Homo sapiens: one gene and its partner. The main gene of each other region encodes a partner of the protein of the gene in region 2 in a complex. Each region holds a gene or a part of one and is shown on either strand. Other genes may lie near its edges.

What was found. Proteins that work in one complex are often made in the same cells at the same time.
Region 1: DHX16 (region 2) and CRNKL1 share a complex: the UniProt entries of both Homo sapiens proteins name them as parts of the minor spliceosome.

Annotation. Positions count from the first base shown.
Region 1 is NC_000020.11:20,041,153-20,049,491, reverse strand, and holds part of CRNKL1 (crooked neck-like protein 1), read left to right. Parts: intron 1-60; coding exon 61-152; intron 153-990; coding exon 991-1,149; intron 1,150-1,560; coding exon 1,561-1,727; intron 1,728-1,729; exon of another isoform or gene 1,730-2,344; intron 2,345-3,965; exon of another isoform or gene 3,966-4,005; coding exon 4,006-4,184; intron 4,185-5,829; coding exon 5,830-6,000; intron 6,001-6,975; coding exon 6,976-7,167; intron 7,168-7,866; coding exon 7,867-7,926; intron 7,927-8,339. UniProt on the Homo sapiens protein: Involved in pre-mRNA splicing process. As a component of the minor spliceosome, involved in the splicing of U12-type introns in pre-mRNAs.
Region 2 is NC_000006.12:30,667,866-30,677,116, forward strand, and holds the start of DHX16 (pre-mRNA-splicing factor ATP-dependent RNA helicase DHX16), read right to left. Parts: upstream 5,142-9,251; 5' UTR 5,118-5,141; coding exon of another isoform or gene 5,091-5,117; 5' UTR 4,977-5,090; coding exon 4,770-4,976; intron 3,410-4,769; coding exon 3,171-3,409; intron 3,088-3,170; coding exon 2,925-3,087; intron 2,602-2,924; coding exon 2,545-2,601; intron 1-2,544. UniProt on the Homo sapiens protein: Required for pre-mRNA splicing as a component of the spliceosome. Contributes to pre-mRNA splicing after spliceosome formation and prior to the first transesterification reaction.

The DNA of each region.
Region 1 (8,339 bases), on a different chromosome or scaffold from region 2:
AAGGGTGCTGTCATTTTTAGTCATTTGTCTTTTGACTTGACCCTTTTTGCCTTCTTCCAGACTTTTGAAGATAATATAAGAAAAAACAGGACTGTGATTAGTAACTGGATAAAATACGCACAATGGGAAGAAAGCCTAAAGGAGATTCAAAGGTAAAATTACTGAGAGTGTAGTTTTGTATATAATGATTCATAGATTAACAGATACCAAAAAGAAAAGAAGAAAAAGTTAAAGCACAGGTAAAAGATTGTGCCTCGGGTAGAAATTTTCAACTTTGGTTCCATGGAACCCTAGGGTTCCCTTGAGGGCCTCAGGAGTACTGGGGTAGAATAGTCCTGGGGAGGGTGGCAGAAGAGGCTTTAGAGATAGATCTTGTCAGTTGTAGCTAAAGAAGCACAATTTCATTTGCTTTGTATATATTGAGATTTTTACAAATTTCAGCTAAACAATGGCCAAAAAAAATAAAACCAATGGCCAAAAAAAATAAAAATTGCAATCTGGCCCTTCCTGTGGTCTAGCTTTCTGCATTCTCCCCGCATACCTCCTTCCCCCACTGTGCCTGTGTATGTGCCACTCCCTGAATATATCATGTCTCCTTATCGTGAGGCTTGACTGTTCTCCTTGCCTGGAATGAGCACCCCCTCCTCACCAAACTTAGTTTCCTGGTAAATCGGAACGTTCCTCAAGTTCTCATTTCTACAATTACCTACTACTTAGCCTTTTCCACCAAACATTTTCATTTCTTCCTCTCTGTTTCCCGTGCAGATCTTGACTATAACATAAATCACATTGCATTATAATTGCATGCATGTCTTTTTATAAGACTTTGTAAGGTACTTGAGAGCATTATATCTTTTCATTTTTTTATGCCCAGAACTTGGCTCATGGTAGACACCTAATAAAACATCAGTGCATTCCAGATAGTTTGAAATAACTGCTACATGTGTTGAATGCTCTATTTTTGATGCCCTGCAAATCTTGCTTCTTAAGGGCTCGATCCATATACGAGCGTGCTTTAGATGTAGACTACCGAAATATTACACTCTGGCTGAAATACGCAGAAATGGAAATGAAGAATCGCCAAGTCAACCATGCTCGAAATATCTGGGACCGGGCCATAACAACGCTGCCTCGAGTTAATCAGTTCTGGTAAGTTTCTGATCTAACAAAACAGCCTTTTATAGACTAGCAAAGTTCCACATCTTCTGTATTTATTTTATTTACATGATGATAGTTTAATTTGATATCCTACTTTTTCTTCAGACATAAATGCTGTTATGTCCCATAGTCTATTAAGTCATAATCGTAATGTTCTATAGCTATGTAATCAAAACTAAAATTTTGATTGCAATCTTTTATTCATAAGCTTCTTGTTGAACTAGGCAACTTTTAAGAAAAAAAAATCTTTTTTTCCAATGGTTCATCCTTTTTCAGATTTACATACAAATGACAAAACATGTTTGATTTAACCTTTAAGAAAGGTAAAATCTTCAATCTTCTTCCCATTCAACAATGGAAGAACTAAACCACAGCAGATATTTTCGGGTGATTTTGTTACAGGTACAAGTACACGTACATGGAGGAAATGTTGGGAAACGTTGCCGGTGCCCGGCAGGTGTTTGAGCGCTGGATGGAGTGGCAGCCTGAGGAGCAAGCCTGGCACTCCTACATCAACTTTGAGCTGAGATACAAAGAGGTGGATCGGGCCCGCACCATTTATGAGCGATATATCCTTTGGACGAGATCTGTATGGTGCCATGATTGTCCTGGATGCTGCTGCTGCTCCTGTAGAGATGTCTCATGATCAGGACACACAGTCATTAATGTCAGGCTCAAAGTCAAGAATGCCAGTTTATCAGCTTCCCTATGTTTTGTAGGGAAAGAGATTGGTCAGAATGAAAATTTGTATTCTGGGTAACTAGTCTTTTCTAGTGAGAGTTTGGGTTTATTTTATTGTAATGCTAAAAGCTAATGTTTCCTTGTGGAAAATGATATTCCTGGGGGATTGTTTCCAGGAACTCAAGGGGATACCAAAATCGGTGATGCTTAAGTCCCTCATATAAAATGATGTAGTATTTGCATGTAACCTATGCATAGCCTCCCATATAATTCAAATAATCTCTAGATTACTTATACCTAATGCAATGTAAATGTTATATAAATAATTGTTATTCTGTATATTTTAAGGAATAATAAGCAAAAAAACGACATGTTCAATACAGAAGCACTTTTTTCTCACGAATACTTTATCTCAGGTTGGTTGAATCCACAGATATGGAACCCATGGCTGGAGGACTAACTGTACTAAGGTCCTGGCTGCCATTGCCAGTCCTGTTTTTCTAAGGTTTGTGTTGGTCATTACTACCTTACTGGAGTTCATCCAAGGTTTACTGTTTACTAGCTGTGTGGCTCCAGAGAGTCATTTAACTCCTTTGAGAGTTGGTGTCCTCTTCTTAAAAACAAGAATAAAAACACCTTTGTTGGGCTGTTGCGAAGATTAAATGATACACATGAAAGCACTTTTAGAAACTGAAGTACAGTCATTCCTCACTATTTGCAGATTCCATGTTTGCAAAATCACGTATTTGCTAAAATTTATTTGTAACCCCCAAAATCAGTAATTGTGGCACTTTCACAGTCATTTGTGGACATGCACAGAGCATGAAGTCCAACAAGGTGAGGCTTGCCTTCTGGTCTTAACCTCATATAACCATGCCTAGAGCTTGGAGACAGGAAGGGCCAGTGCCATGTAGTGCAAGGAGCTGTGGCTCTGGGGCCAGTCGGGGAGTTTGAATCCCTGTCAGTGGGGCAGCCTCAGTCCAGTCACTTAACATTTCTGAACCACTTTTCTTACAAAATAATGAAGATAGAATCTGCCAGGATGAGTTCTTTTTAGGATTTAAGATGATGATGAATGTGAGATTGTATATATACACGTTTCTCCTAGGAGCAGTGGTTCAGTACTCAATAATTAAGTGTTCGCATTGACTAAATAGAACATAACTACCAGAAATAATGAGAGTCAACTTTATTATGCAGTATTAAGATCTTTTTATTTTTTTACTCTTCTCTGTTGAGGTGACAATGTTAAGATCTTAATTATGTCTACTAATTTTAATATTATTAGTTTGACGAAAGCTTTTATAGCACTTGCTACGTGCCAGGCAGTATTCTAAGTACTTTACAGATATTGTTGTTTAATCCTCATAACATCCTTGCAGTGTAGGAACTTCTCTGTCCTACAGATGAGGGAGCTGAGGCATGAGAGATTAAGTAGCTTGACTGGGTTCTCACAGGTGCTGATGGAAATAGAATGTGAACCTAGTAGAGCAGCTTCAGAACTGATGCTCTTCTTTGCCATATTGGAATATATTACTACTTTGGAAATTAATGATTTATTCAAGGAAGATAGATTAAAATGACAATTCAAAACTTTCTGCTTTGACTCTAGTTAACAGTTTTCTTTTTATAGCATGTTTTTTTCTTAATTATTAGTTCAAGTATTCATATTTTAATATAATTGGTGCTATTTAATGACCAGACCATTATTGACCGCTTACGGTGCCATGTTCTTTTGGCTAGAAACTGTGCTAAGGGCTTTACATACATTTTCTCATTTAAAGCTGGCAGTAATCCAGTGAGGCTGGCATTATTTTTCCCTGTTTACAAATGAAACAGCTGAGACTTAGACGTCTAAGTTCAGTGACTTATCCAAGATCACATGGTTGGTAACCTGGGTTGAGATTTTTCTTTGCTTCCAACTCGAGTTTATACCCACCACTAAAATCTTAACTAAGCACTGGAGGAAAATAGAGATGAACAGGCGTGGCCCTGCTCTCACAGAAGCCACTGTTTAATTCTACACTTTTGTATGTGTTTTGTTCCCCTAGAGTTGTAGTTTGAATTTTTGGAGTTTCCAGGCTTTGGTATGGTTTTGGTGTTTACTTACTTACTATTTTTTTAAGCCATGCTGTTTTGCCTGGGATTTCCTTAATTCCCTTGCACTTGTCCTCGTGCACCCTGATGTTAAGAACTGGATCAAGTATGCCCGCTTTGAAGAAAAACATGCTTATTTTGCCCATGCACGGAAAGTGTATGAGAGAGCTGTGGAATTCTTTGGAGATGAACATATGGATGAGCACCTTTATGTTGCCTTTGCCAAGTTTGAAGAAAATCAGAAAGAGGTAAGTATACCTAACTTCATTATACTGTAAAACAGCTTAGCAAAGATTACATTTTGTGCATGGTGAGTTCATTTCCATTTTTTCTTACTGACATATCCCTGGAAAGATGTTTTCAAAATACAAAAACACAGCTTCTCACAGAGAACAGCATATATATGTGACTAAGCTACAGATGGGAGCTGATTATAGATTGTATTATAACTGTCTTAATTTTATTGTGCTTTGTTTGAAAATTAAGCCTTTTAGTCTGAATGCCCGTAAACTGAGAACTAGTCTTTTGGCATCCTAAGTAAAGGACTTAACCGATAATAAATATGGGAAACAAAAAGCTTAAAGCCCTAGAACAGAAAACATTTAGAATGGAAACAGAGATTGCCCTACAAATAAGAGAGTTCTTTTTTTCCCTTGTACCTATGAAAATAGCTCAAATATTGAGAAGATGAGGCAGAAGGATCACTTGAGGCCAGGAGTTTGAGACCAGCCTGGGCAACATAGTGAGACCCTGTCTCTAAAAAAAAAAATTGAGTGGGCATAGTGGTGCACACCTACAGTCCCAGCTACTTGGGAAGCTGAGGCAGGAGTATCACTTGAGCCTAGGAGTTTGAGACTACAATGAGCTATGTTCGTGCCATTGCACTCTAGCCTGGGTGACAGAGCAGGACCCCATTTCTTAAAAAAAAAGGGAGTTCAAATAATACAGAATTGAGATCCATCCAAATACAGGTTTGAGCATTCCCAGTCTGAAAATCCAAAACTCAAAATGTGAAACTTGTTGAGTGCTGACATGACACTCGAAGGAAATGTTCATTGGAACATTTCAGACTTCGGGTTTTTGGATTAGGGATGCTGAACCAGTAAGTATAATGCAAATATTCCCAAACTGGGGAAACATCCCAAATCCAAAACACTTCTGATACCAAATGCTTCAGACAAGAGATACTCAACCTATATAAGGTCTTGCACGGACCATGCTAGGGAGTTCAGATTCTGTTCGGGCCAGTGGGAAGCATTGAAAGGTTTTAAGCGGGACAGTGATTGGATATGATTTATATTTTAAGGAGAGCCTCTGGCTAATTCATGGAGAATGTATGAGGGTAGATGGCAAAAGTGGAACCAGGGGAGACCAGTGGGGAGACTTTTGAAGTGGGCCAGGTGAACAGTGGAGTTTGATGGCTGGGGGCTGGGGAGAAGCAAATGGCTGTGTGGAAGAGATTGAAATGGTAGGGCATGTTGCAAGAGTGAATATGGAGTATGAGGAAAAAAGAGGAATTGAGGATCACCTGAAGGTTTTGGCTTGAGCAAGTGACTGTAGGTTAGGCCTTGCCTACTAAAATTGGGAAGATGGGGAGAGTCCCAGTTTGAGTGGGGAGGAAACAGAAGCTCAGTTTTGGACCTGTTTGAGATGTGCAGTAGACATCCAGTTGGCAGTGTTAGGTAGACAGTATTAAATATGGAGCTCAAAGCAGAGTACCGGTCCATCCTGACAGAGATAACCTTCAACAAGAGGGAGAAAAGCATCTTACTCTGGATATTATGAGGCCTCAAAATCTAACTTATAAGTAATATTTTGTTATATTTACTCTCCTAGTTGTGACTGGCATGAGAATATTGTGTTATAGAAGGTAATCATCCTGTCTGCATTTAGTTTGAAAGGGTACGAGTGATTTACAAGTATGCCCTGGACAGAATTTCAAAACAAGATGCCCAAGAACTCTTTAAAAATTATACCATCTTTGAGAAGAAGTTTGGTGATAGGCGGGGTATTGAAGATATCATTGTGAGCAAACGGAGATTCCAGTACGAAGAAGAAGTGAAGGTGAGCACTGGTGTGGATGGTCAACTCTGCAGATAACCCAAGATGTGCTCATCAATACTAGCAACACTAAAATGAATAATAGCAAGTAGCACTACTAGTGATTACTCTCGTGATGATGTGCCCGTGATCCAATTGGCAGCTATTTCAGACAAGTAGGAATAAACAAGGCTGATAGAAAAGGCAAGCAAACAACACTTGGATTTGCTCTGCCACTTACATGTTGTAAGTCGTTTTGTTGATTGTTGACTGTATGTAGAACTGGAGCAAAAGAAATGTGGAATCCATTCGAGCTCATTGTTGGAAGAAGGTGGAAGAGTCAGAGATTGGTCCAAAAACCTGTTTTGCACATCACCTTTGAGCTTAACTGCCTGAACAAAAGATGTATGCTAGACAGGGTTCCATCGGCATCTCTTTTTCTGTAATGTACTATTTTGATTTCAATTCAAAGAGAGTGTCATTTTCCTTCAGTATTCTGTTGTGTATTTAAAAATACTCTTCCTTAGTCAAGTTAATTAAGATACCTCCAAGCAAAGGACTAAGTCTGTTATTAAATGTGGTGGTAGGTTAGCAAGATATGTTAAAGATGAATTGCTATTAATTGGAAAGGCAAGTTTAACAATTGTGAGCATGATACGATTCTGTTGTTACAGACATAATGATACATAGTCACATATTTAAGCAAATGCATTGGCAAGAATAGGCATCTAATTATTGACTGTCGTGAGAGTGATGGCTATAGATGAAGGAGTCCTTGCTGTGGGACACCTGGCCAGTAATCTATCCTCTGTATTCCTGTTTCTTTTCTATTTATGCAGTCTCAGGGATGGTGTTTTTAAAATGAAAGAACATGTAACATTTAGAAGAAAAGGTGCTAAAATATAGAAAGTCAGCCTGATGCCTTTTTTCAGCTTGCTTAACCTGGCAAGTGCAGCTCTTGGTTTTGTTTTTTATTTATTAAACTGGTTGTCTTTCTAGGCGAATCCACACAATTATGATGCATGGTTTGATTACTTGCGCTTGGTAGAAAGTGACGCAGAAGCTGAAGCCGTGAGAGAAGTCTATGAAAGGGCCATTGCCAATGTCCCACCCATTCAGGAGAAGAGGCACTGGAAGCGCTACATTTATCTTTGGATCAACTATGCACTCTATGAAGAATTGGAGGCAAAGGTGAAAAAACAGAATTATGTGTCAGCTGATAATGGTTTCCTGTCTTCTGTATTCACAGCTCACCTATTGTGGATGTTTGTAATTCTTGAAAGAAGGAAATTTAGTTTTAAATTTTTATAGGCTTCTGTTCATCCATACAGTTATATATTCGCTCTGCAACATTTTAAACCCTCTGTGCTTGTTGTGGCCACACGTGAGGGGCTTTTTTAACTTTGGTTTGATTTTTACTTGAGGCACAACAAGATATCACTTGGAGCTTGAAAGAGAACAGTGAACCAGCCCTTAATTTAGTGAAATATAGTTTCCTGGATTTGCTCATTAATAGGAGTAATTCTGGCTAGATTATGCATTTTTGCTTTTAGCAAAAATCAAGTGGCATTTTCAGAAATCATTTGTATTAACCTTCTGGGTTTGATCTGAGACTATGAAACATCTTTGTTTCTTTCTGCCATCAGGCAAAACGGCTTTCTACAAAGAAGGGCTTAGAAGTTTGGTGGCTATCTTGTTGGTGATTCTTAAACTGAAGTTTCATGGCCGTTCATACTTTAGATCATAAATCAGGGTTTGCAAGTAACAACTTGTGAAACATGCTGTTTTGGGGGTGTACATTTTTACCAATATCAGTAAAATTAGTAACTAGTAAAATGAGTGTTAGCAGCAGACTTCAATATTTTGTGAAAATTTCTTATCCTAATACAGGATCCTGAGAGGACAAGACAGGTGTATCAAGCCTCTTTGGAACTAATTCCTCACAAAAAGGTATGTTTGCTCTAAAGTGTTCCATTTCAAACAGGTCAGAATCCTCTTCTGTTACTTGTGAAGTAATTCAGTGAAATAATATTGATTGATAAAATGCTTCCCTGTCCCACCATGGACAACATAAATAAGACTGAGATATGCTCCTTGCCTCTGAAAACAGCTCACAGACTAGGTTGGAGGACAACCTGCATTGACAAACAAATAATATAAATTCAGAGAAGGCTAGGTAATGTGAATAGTCTGAGTGGAAGGAGAAAGACATCCATGCAGAGAGCACACAACGTGTGCGGGGGACACACAGGCGGGTTTGTTGGTAACAGTGAGTGTGTGCATGCACAGATGAATGTGCCCCTTGTGTAGATGGTTGAGATGTTACCTCCGCCTTGTTTCCCAGCACGAGAAACAAAACGTGT
Region 2 (9,251 bases):
ACTTAACACCACAAGATAAGAATCAGGCAAATCCAGAATGTAGGACACTGCAAGGTGAGACAGACAGAGAGAGAAACAAACTTAACATCTAAGACCCAAATGCAATGCATGAACCTTGACTGCATTCTTGTTAGGAAAAAGCAGTCATTAAAGTTATTTTGAGGGTAATGAGGGTATCTTTTATTGTAGAGAGATCTTAGTCGATACATAAGAATTACTGTTCAACTTCCTGACTGTGACAAGAGCATTCTGATTTTAGAGGACAATATCTTTATCCTTAGCAGGTACACACTGATGTACTTAGAGATAAAACGCCATGATGTCTAAGACTCTTTTAAATGGTCTGAAAAGAAAAAACATACCACATTTACAATTACAATGCAAATACTACCCATAGTATTAACCATTTTTCAATCTGAATAGTGTCTATGAGTGTTCTTTGTTCTATTCTTTCAACTTCCCTATGTGCTTAAATATTTTTGTAATCGAAAAAGAAAAATTACAGCTGGGCACAGTGGCTCACGCCTGTAATCTTAACATTTTGGGAGACCGAGGGGGGTGGATCGCCAAAGGTCAGGAGTTTGAGATCAGACTGGCCAACATGGTGAAACCCTATCTCTACTAAACATACAAAAATCAGCCAGGCATGCTAGTGCATGTCTGTAGTCCCAGCTGCTCGGGAGGTTGAGGCAGGAGAATCACTTGAACCCGGGAGGCGGAGGTTGCAGTGAGCCGAGATCATGCCACTGCACTCCAGCCTGGGCGACAGAATGAGATTCTGTCTCAAAAAAAACCCGAAAAATTAAATTCAGGCCAAAACAGTAACACCACTACCACCACAACTGCACTGAGATGTCCCAGAAGCCTAACCACAGTCAATTTCAGGAAGAGATATGAGATAAATTGGTCAGGAGAGACCTGGGAACCAGTAGGCCATTCTTAGAACTCCAAAAGTTGGCCGGGCACGTGGTGACTCACGCCTATAATCCCAGCACTTTGGGAGGCCGAGGCAGGTGGATCACCTGAGGTCAGGAGTTCAAGACCAGCCTGACCAACATGGAGAAACCCCATCTCTACTAAAAATACAAAATTAGCCAGGCGAGGTGGCTCATGCCTGTAATCCCAGCTACTCTGGAGGCTGAGGCAGGAGAATCGCTTGAACTCGGGAGGTGGAAGTTGCAGTGAGCCAAGATCACGCCACTGCACTTCAGCCTGAGCAACAAGTGCAAAACTCTGTTTCAAAAAAATAAATAAATGAATTTTAAAAAGTAAAAACGGCCAGGCGTAGTGGCTCATGCCTATAATCCCAACACTTTGGGAGGCCAAGGCGGGCAGATCACAAGGTCAAGAGATCAAGACCATCCTGGCCAACATGATGAAATCTCCTCTACTAAAAATACAAAAAATTAGCCGAGTGTGGTACTGCAGGCCTGTAGTCCCAGCTACTCAGGAGGCTGAGGCAGGAGAATCGCTTGATTCCTCCACCAGGGAGGCACAGGTTGTAGTGAGCTGAGATCGCACCACCACACTCCAGCCTGGCAACAGAGTGAGACTCCATCTCAAAAATAAATAAATAAAAATAAAAAATAAAACAAAACAAATAAAAAGAAGGCTGGGCATGGTGGCTCACGCCTGTAATTCCAGCTCTCTGGGAGGCCAAAGCAGGTGGATCACAAGGTCAGGGGTTCGAGACCACCCTGGCCAACATGGTGAAACCCCGTCTCTACTAAAGGTACAAAAAATTAGCCAGGCGTGGTGGTGTGCGCCTGTAATCCCAGCTACTCAGGAGGCGGAGGTTGCAGTGAGCCGAGATCGCATCATTGCACTCCAGCCTCGGTGACAGGGCAAGACCCCGTTTCAAAAAAAAGAAAAAAGGTTTAAAAAAAAAAAAAAAAAAAAAAAGGAACTTCAAGAGTCTCAAAATTCTATTGGGGTATTGGGGAATCTAAGTGTGACTTTACTTGACAAGACCAGGCCTTTGGAAAACAGCTTACCCTACCTAGTTTCACACCATAAAAAGTCCAGTTTATGAATTACAAGGGCTCTGTCCCTGTCCAGTGAGAAGACACAGGGAGATCACAAAGCCACATAAGGGGTGCAGGAATTAGGTGGTGGGAAGGTATTTGGAGATGGTGTGCCTAAGCTGAATGGTCAGCACATCCCTGTACAGTGGGACTGCTGCCCTGCCCTTGCCCTCCAGCAACCTTCTTGACAACATTCCAGCTGCCTCATATCTCATTAGGACTCAGGAATAGGGAAAGCTCACAATTTCATTCACTAATAGAGTATATTTGATCCTAAAGTTAAGAGTCAAGGAGGACTTATGGGTAGCCTCCTTCCCCCTACAACTTAAGAAGGATCCTTCCCTCAACAACATAAGTCTATCCTCAGCTGGCTCCTAACAACCAAGCCCCTCTTCTAGAAACCTGACCACCCCATCAGCATCCACACTGTGCTTCCTCTGTATCCTCTCTCCCTATACACTCTATCAGAAAGTCTTTCCTTTTGTCTTCTGATCTTGGCTCCCTAGGCCCTGGGACTCACCATGGCCTTCCGGTCTTCCTCGGCCATCTTGAGGCGCTTCTGAGCCTCTTCATAAGCCTAGAAGAAAAAACAAGAATGGAGGGGTGTGAGGCCAAAGAGCCCCCACACTGACAGCTGCTCCCCTCTAGAATCACAAGGATCATTCAGATGCGCCCTAACACAAAAAATGTCCCCTCTCAGTGAGGAATCTCTCTGATTGCAGGTACAGCAGACAGTTGTCTTAGCCACAGGATGCACAGGGCTTCTCTCACCACAGAGGTGAACATCTCACTAGAGACAGCCCCTTGTCTTCCCAGAGATCACTATCTCTGCACTCACAGCCAACCTCAGATTTCACCCTGGGATCTTGGGGATTTACAGAACATGCTGCTCCTATTCACCTTCTTGTCTGACCGTTCCAGGACATTTCGAGTCCGATCCTTGTCCCGCTGTCGAACCCGCTCAGCAAAGGCATCACGCTCCTCCAGGTCCTGAAGGCGTTCACGCTCTGTCCGTTCCCACTCATCTTCCGACTCTGGCTTCTCTGTCTGCTGTTTACTCCCCCTGCAGCCCATCCAGGGGATTAAATAAGGGCATAGAGAACACTTCAGCCTGCCCCATCCTCTCTCACCCTGCTTCTGACTTACCCTGTTTTCTTCTTCCCTTTCTCAGAAGCCTCTTCCTCCTCTTCTTCCTCACGCTTCTTCCTGAGGTGTTTCCGCTTTTTACGTTTCTTCTGGAGGCTGCTTCCAGCCCTACTCACAGTCTCCTCACTGCTCTCTTCACTGTCTTCCAGTAACCTATAAGATCGGTTCTTCTCCAGCAGGGCCCGGGCCTCTCGCTCTGCTGCCCGAGCTGGCTTTTCTACCACTGCCTTTCGTGGTACCTGTCAGTAGAGGGGAAGATAAGGAGGTCTGAGCAACTCCTGATCTCTGCCCTCCCACTTAGCTCTGTTCCTAATTTAAGCAATTACTTAGTCTTTCCTGCCCCCGCGGCCCGGCCCCACTGTCAGGCAATGGCGTGATCTCGGCTCACTTCAACCTCCGCCTCCCAGGTTCAAGCAATTCTCCTGCCTCAGCCTCCCAAGTAGCTGAGATTACAGGCACATGCCACCACGCCCGACTATTTTTGTATTTTTAGTAGAGATGAGGTTTCACCATGTTGGCCAGGCTGGTCTCAAACTCCTGACCTCATGATCCACTCACCTCAGCCTCCCAAAGTGCTGGGATTACAGGCATGAGCCACCACACCCGGGCACAATTACTTAGTTTTAAACCAGCTAACCAGCATTCATTCTCTTTCTTCCTCATGGCTTCACCCCATCTTCATCATCCTGAATGGGGTTTTTTATTTTTTTTTACAGACAGGGTTTCACTCTGTCCCTCTTGGGCTCAAGGGATCCTCCCACCTCAGGCTCCTAAGTAGCTAGAAACACAGGTGCACACTACCACGCTCAACTAATTTTTAATTTTTTTGTAGGACGAAGGTTTCGCCATGTTGCCCAGGCTGGTCTCGAACTCCTGGGCTCAAGTAATCCTCCTGCCTCAGCCTCCCGGGGTGCTGGGATTACAGGTGTGAGCCACTGCACCCGGCCCCCTCTGTTAATTAAACGACTGAAAGGAAGTTCAGAAGATGAGGGGGGCCGGGCATGGTGGCTCACGCCTGTAATCTCAGCACTCTGAGGGGGCTGAGAGAGGATTGCTTGAGCTGAGGAGTTAGAGACCAGCCTGCGCAACACACCAAGGCCTCATCTCTAAAAATAAAAATAAAAATAAAAGATATTAGCCGGGGGTGGTGGCGCGCGCCCGTAGTCCCAGCTACCGGGGAAGATGAGGTGGGAGGGTCGCTTCAACCAGGGAGGTCGACGCTGTAGTGAGCCGTGATCTTACGACCGCACTCCAGCCTGGGCGACGGGGCGAGCGAGACTGTGTCTCTCAAAAAAAAAAAAAAGAAAGAAAGAAATGCAGAAACTAAGATCCCTACTGAATCGCAATCTGCATTTTAACAAGAACCTTGGATGCATGTTAAGAGTTCGAGAAACACCGTTCTATTGCGCTTAACCCGACACACCTAAGCCCTCCTCAATCTTCTCCACTGAGCTGGGCGTCCAGCAGCTAGCACAGTACCTACGCGACAACGGACAAAGAATAAGTGCTTGTGAACTGAGCTTTCTTAACTTCTCGATGGACCGTTAGGCCAGCCTCACCGGGACAAATCACAGGGCCCCTCCCCACCCCTGCCGACACCTTGTTCCAGAGTCTCAGGGCGAAGTCCCGGGCCGGCCCACTGAGATCCAAGGTATCAGTGTCTCGTAGGCGCTGCACGAACTCCTCGGCAGAGGTGCAGCGCTGTGCGGTACCGATCAGAAACTGGGCGACGTGCCGCTCGCTCAGCCCCAACACCGAGTGCAGCTCGTCCTGAACCCAGCGCTCCAGACCCGCCGGCGTCGCCATGGCGACTCACGCTCCCTGCTCCCGGCCCTGAAGCGTCGGGCAGCCGCGCTCACTGCTGGGCCGGTCAGAGGCCTGGAGCCCTCGGCTGGAGCCTCAGCTTCGCAAGTCAGCTACCTTGGGACCTCTAGGATCTTCCGACATCCCAAAGCTGTCTTCCCGTACCGCGGAGCCCGGAAGGGGCTGTACTTTTTCGGCCTCTAAGCACTACGGTGGCCGAGCGAGTTCAAACCTCGCGGAACCATACCTGAAAACTCGGGGTAATTCTTTTTTCTTCATTTCGCCTCTGTCCAGTTTCTCTGACGCCCCCTGATGGTCAGTCTGTGAGTGCTTCGCTCACGCATTCATTCAACAAGTGAAATTAATTTAATGGATGCCTAATGTGTGCTCATTGCTTTCCGTCCCTGGGATATAGCAGAGGACAAATCAAAAGTTCCTTACCAAATTTACATTTTGCGGTGGGGGAGGGACAGGATACATAATAAAGAAAGTATGGAAATTTTATAGAGCCAAAAACTATACAAAGTAAGGGAGGAATGAAATTCTATTTCAGATTGGAAGATCGGGTCCATGCTCATAAAACATATTAGCATTGTTGGCCGGGCGCGGTGGCTCATGCCTGTAATCCCAGCACTTTGGGAGGCCAAGGCGGGCGGATTATCTGAGGTCAGGAGTTCGAGACCAGCCTGGCCAAGATGGCGAAACCCTGTCTCTACTAAAAATATAAAAATTAGCCTGGCGTGGTGGTGTGCGCCTGTAGTCCCAGCCACTCGGGAGGCTGAGGCAGGAGAATCATTTGAACATGGGAAGCAGAGTTTGCAGTGAGCCGAGATCCCACCACGGCACTCCAGCCTGAGCAACAGAGGAAGTCTCTGTCTCAAACAAACAAAAAAGTGACCGTTGCTAGGACTGGTTTGCCTGCAGCAGGAGTGAAGACAGGTCAGGTATAAGGGAAGACCTCTAGGCAGGAAGAAACTGGGGAACTGGGGAAAGTTGTTAAAGACAAAATCTCCAAACTAAGGAACAGGCAAACTGTGTTCTGCATTTTTGCTTAACAGCTTGAGAAAATCACTGGTGGCTGCTTATTTAAAAGTAAGCAAGGCCAGGTGCAGTGGCTCTTGCTGTAATCCCAGCACTTTGGGAGGCTGAGGCAGGAGGATATCTTGAGACCAGGGGTTTGAGACCAGCCTGGGCAACAGGGTGAGACCCCACCATCTCTACAAAAAATTAGCCAGGTGTGGAGGTGTGCACCTGTAGTCCCAGCTACTCTGGAGACTGAGACAGGAGAATTTTTTTTTTTTTTTTTGGAGACAGAGTCTCGCTCTGTTGCCCAGACTGGAGTGCAATGGCACGATCTCGGCTCACTGCAACTTCCGCCTCCCAGGTTCAAGTGATTCTCCTGCCTCAGCCTCCTGAGTAGCTGGAATTACAAGTGTGACAAGCACATGCCATCACGCCCAGCTAGTTTTTGTATTTTTAATACAGATGGGGTTTTACCATGTTGGTCAGGCTGGTCTCAAACTCCTGACCTCATGATCCGCCCGTCTCGGCCTCCCAAAGTGCTGGGATTACAGGCGTGAGCCACCGCACTGGGCCTGAGACAGGAGAATCTCTTGAGCCCAGGAGCCAGAGGTTGCAGTGAGCCGAGGTCAGGCACTCCAACCTAGGCAACAGACCAAGACTATGCTCAAAAAAAAAAAACAAACAAAACAAAAAGCTGAATTTGTTACTCGATGCTCTGCTGTCTGATTTGTTTGATCCTGCATCATACTTTTGTGATTAATTGCAGTTACCAGGCACTACTGTTAGGAAATGAAACATTGTTCTTATTAATAGCCACAAGTGGATCTACATCACTGACTTTTTTTTTTTTTTTTTTGGAAAGGGAGTCTCGGAGTCTCACTCTGTCGCCCAGGCTGGAATGCAGTGGCGTGATCTTGGCTCACTGCAGCCTCCACCTCCTGGGTTCAAGCAATTCTCCTGCCTCAGCCTCCTGAGTAGGCGGGACTACAGGTGCGTGCCACCACGTCCAGCTAATTTTTTGTATTTTAGTAGAGACGGGGTTTCATCATGTTGCCCAGGCTGGTCTCAAACTCCTCAGATGAGGCAGTCCACCCGCCTTGGCATCCCAAAGTGTTAGGATTACAGGCATGAGCCACCACACCTGGCCTGACCTCTTGAATGCATTGTTTTCTGTTTCTGAGATGGACTGTGAGCACCCCTGGCACCTCGGAGCTTCCTAACTCTGTTTTCCTGGGTCACAACTGGAAACTTTTTAAGACCTTTACCTAACAGGCTACTAATATAATCATTCTGTTTCCTTCCCTACCCAGACCTTCTCTGAACTGGCTGAGTCTTTTGACACCTGGCTTGTTCTCTTGCTAGTAAATTGAAAACCTTTGGCGTATGCTTAAGTTCAATTTGTCTCATATATTTTGTTTTATAGTAAAGGTGTGGGGCCTCCTCTGACCAGTCTGAGAGGAGCAACTTGTAGTGGTAGAAGGACTATAACTATTCAACCATATCTTTGTTAGCCTGGAGAGCTAACAACAAACAAACAAATTTTCCTGATGAGTAAAATATTGATGTTCCACATTTGTATAAGATATTCTTTGAAATGGGAAAATTCCAAATATCAACTACATGGGCACCAAAGCCATGCACTATCAAGATGGTTTTTAAACCTTTTTTTTTTTTTTTGAGATGGAGTCTCACTCTGCTGCCCAGGCTGGAGTGTAATGGCGCAATCTCAGCTCACTGCAAGCTCCACCTCCCGGGTTCATGCCATTCTCCTGCCTCAGCCTCCCGAGTAGCTGGGACTACAGGTGCCCACCACTATGCCCCGCTAATTTTTTGTATTTTTAGTAGAGACGGGGTTTCACCGTGTTAGCCAGGATGGTCTCAATCTCCTGACCTTATGATCCGCCTGCCTCGGCCTCCCAAAGTGCTGGGATCACAGGCGTGAGCCACCGTGCCCGGCCTTTAGGCCTTTAACGATATAAAATCCATTGTCTATCAGAGGGGAACCTTTTCCAGGAAACTGACTCTTGTACATACTTACTTCATTTTGCAGCAATTTCAGATTTAGTATTCGTAGCCCCAGCTCTTTAAGTAAGTATCCCTGGATTAGCCACATGGGTTGTGTCATACACTACCTAGCTGCCTTCATGGCAGCAGGCTTCTGAATACTAGAACCCTTCAACTCAAAGTGTCCTCTGTAATATTTTAACCCTTTTCTTCTATTCATTCATTTGTTGTCATTCATTCTAGAAATAATTCCGTGTCTACTAGTTGACAGGTACAGGATATTGCAGTGAATCCAGCTGATGTAGTCAGCCCTCATGGCACTTCCAGTCTAGTGGACACTTCAACTGCCCTTTCTCATGTCACCTGCTTGTCCTGCGTGAAACCCACGTGCAGCTTCCCAGACCCCTTTTGACATGTCAGTGCCGAGTTCCTGGTTCATCCCCCATCATTTTCCTCTCCCCCAGCCACCAGAGCCTCCCCTCACATACCCTTTTTTTTTCCCAAAGAAGGAGAAGCAGACGAGTTGAAGAGAACTCCATTTTATTATGGAAAGTTAAAAAACAAACAAAACAAAACAGGCAATTGATAAAGGCGGCACAATGGGGAAGGAGAGGTGAGGTGTCTCCTTAGCCACCCGACACCATCTCAATTCAGTTCAATTGTGAACCACTAGGAGAAACAGAATTAAATAACTATCAAGGGGTACAGAGTTAAGAGTTCCAGCCTTCCCTCTTGGGGAAAACTAAGGCAAAGTAATACTGAGAAAAAGTGGAGGAAGCCACACCTTCAGGTCACTCCAATGAGGAGACTGGAGGGGACAGAGGAGAGAATTCCACGCAGACACAGCAAGTAAGCGTGGCTTGTAAACCTGGGACTTTGGCAGGTGGGGCTGGGAGCTGATGGAATTTGTAAACCAGGCTGTGGTCAAGGGAGGAGGCAGGAGCTGTAAACAAAGGGGCAGTGACCTAGGAAATGAAGGAGATGTGCCTATAAATGGAGTGGGGTCTGGGCCTCCCAGAGAGACGAGTGCTTAAATCCCGAGAGTCCCCACGGGATGGTGGGGAGGAAGGCTGTGGGGAGAGTGTACCCTGCCATGGGGGGCAGGTGCTCCATCTCCACCCTCCAGGGAGTTCTGTGCCCCTTCTCAGGACTTGGCGCTCACTCTTGGATGACCTAGGATGCACCAGCACGTTTAACCCCACCCACACCAGGGACTTTGGATTAGGGTAGAAATTGGGCAATTGGCTCTGC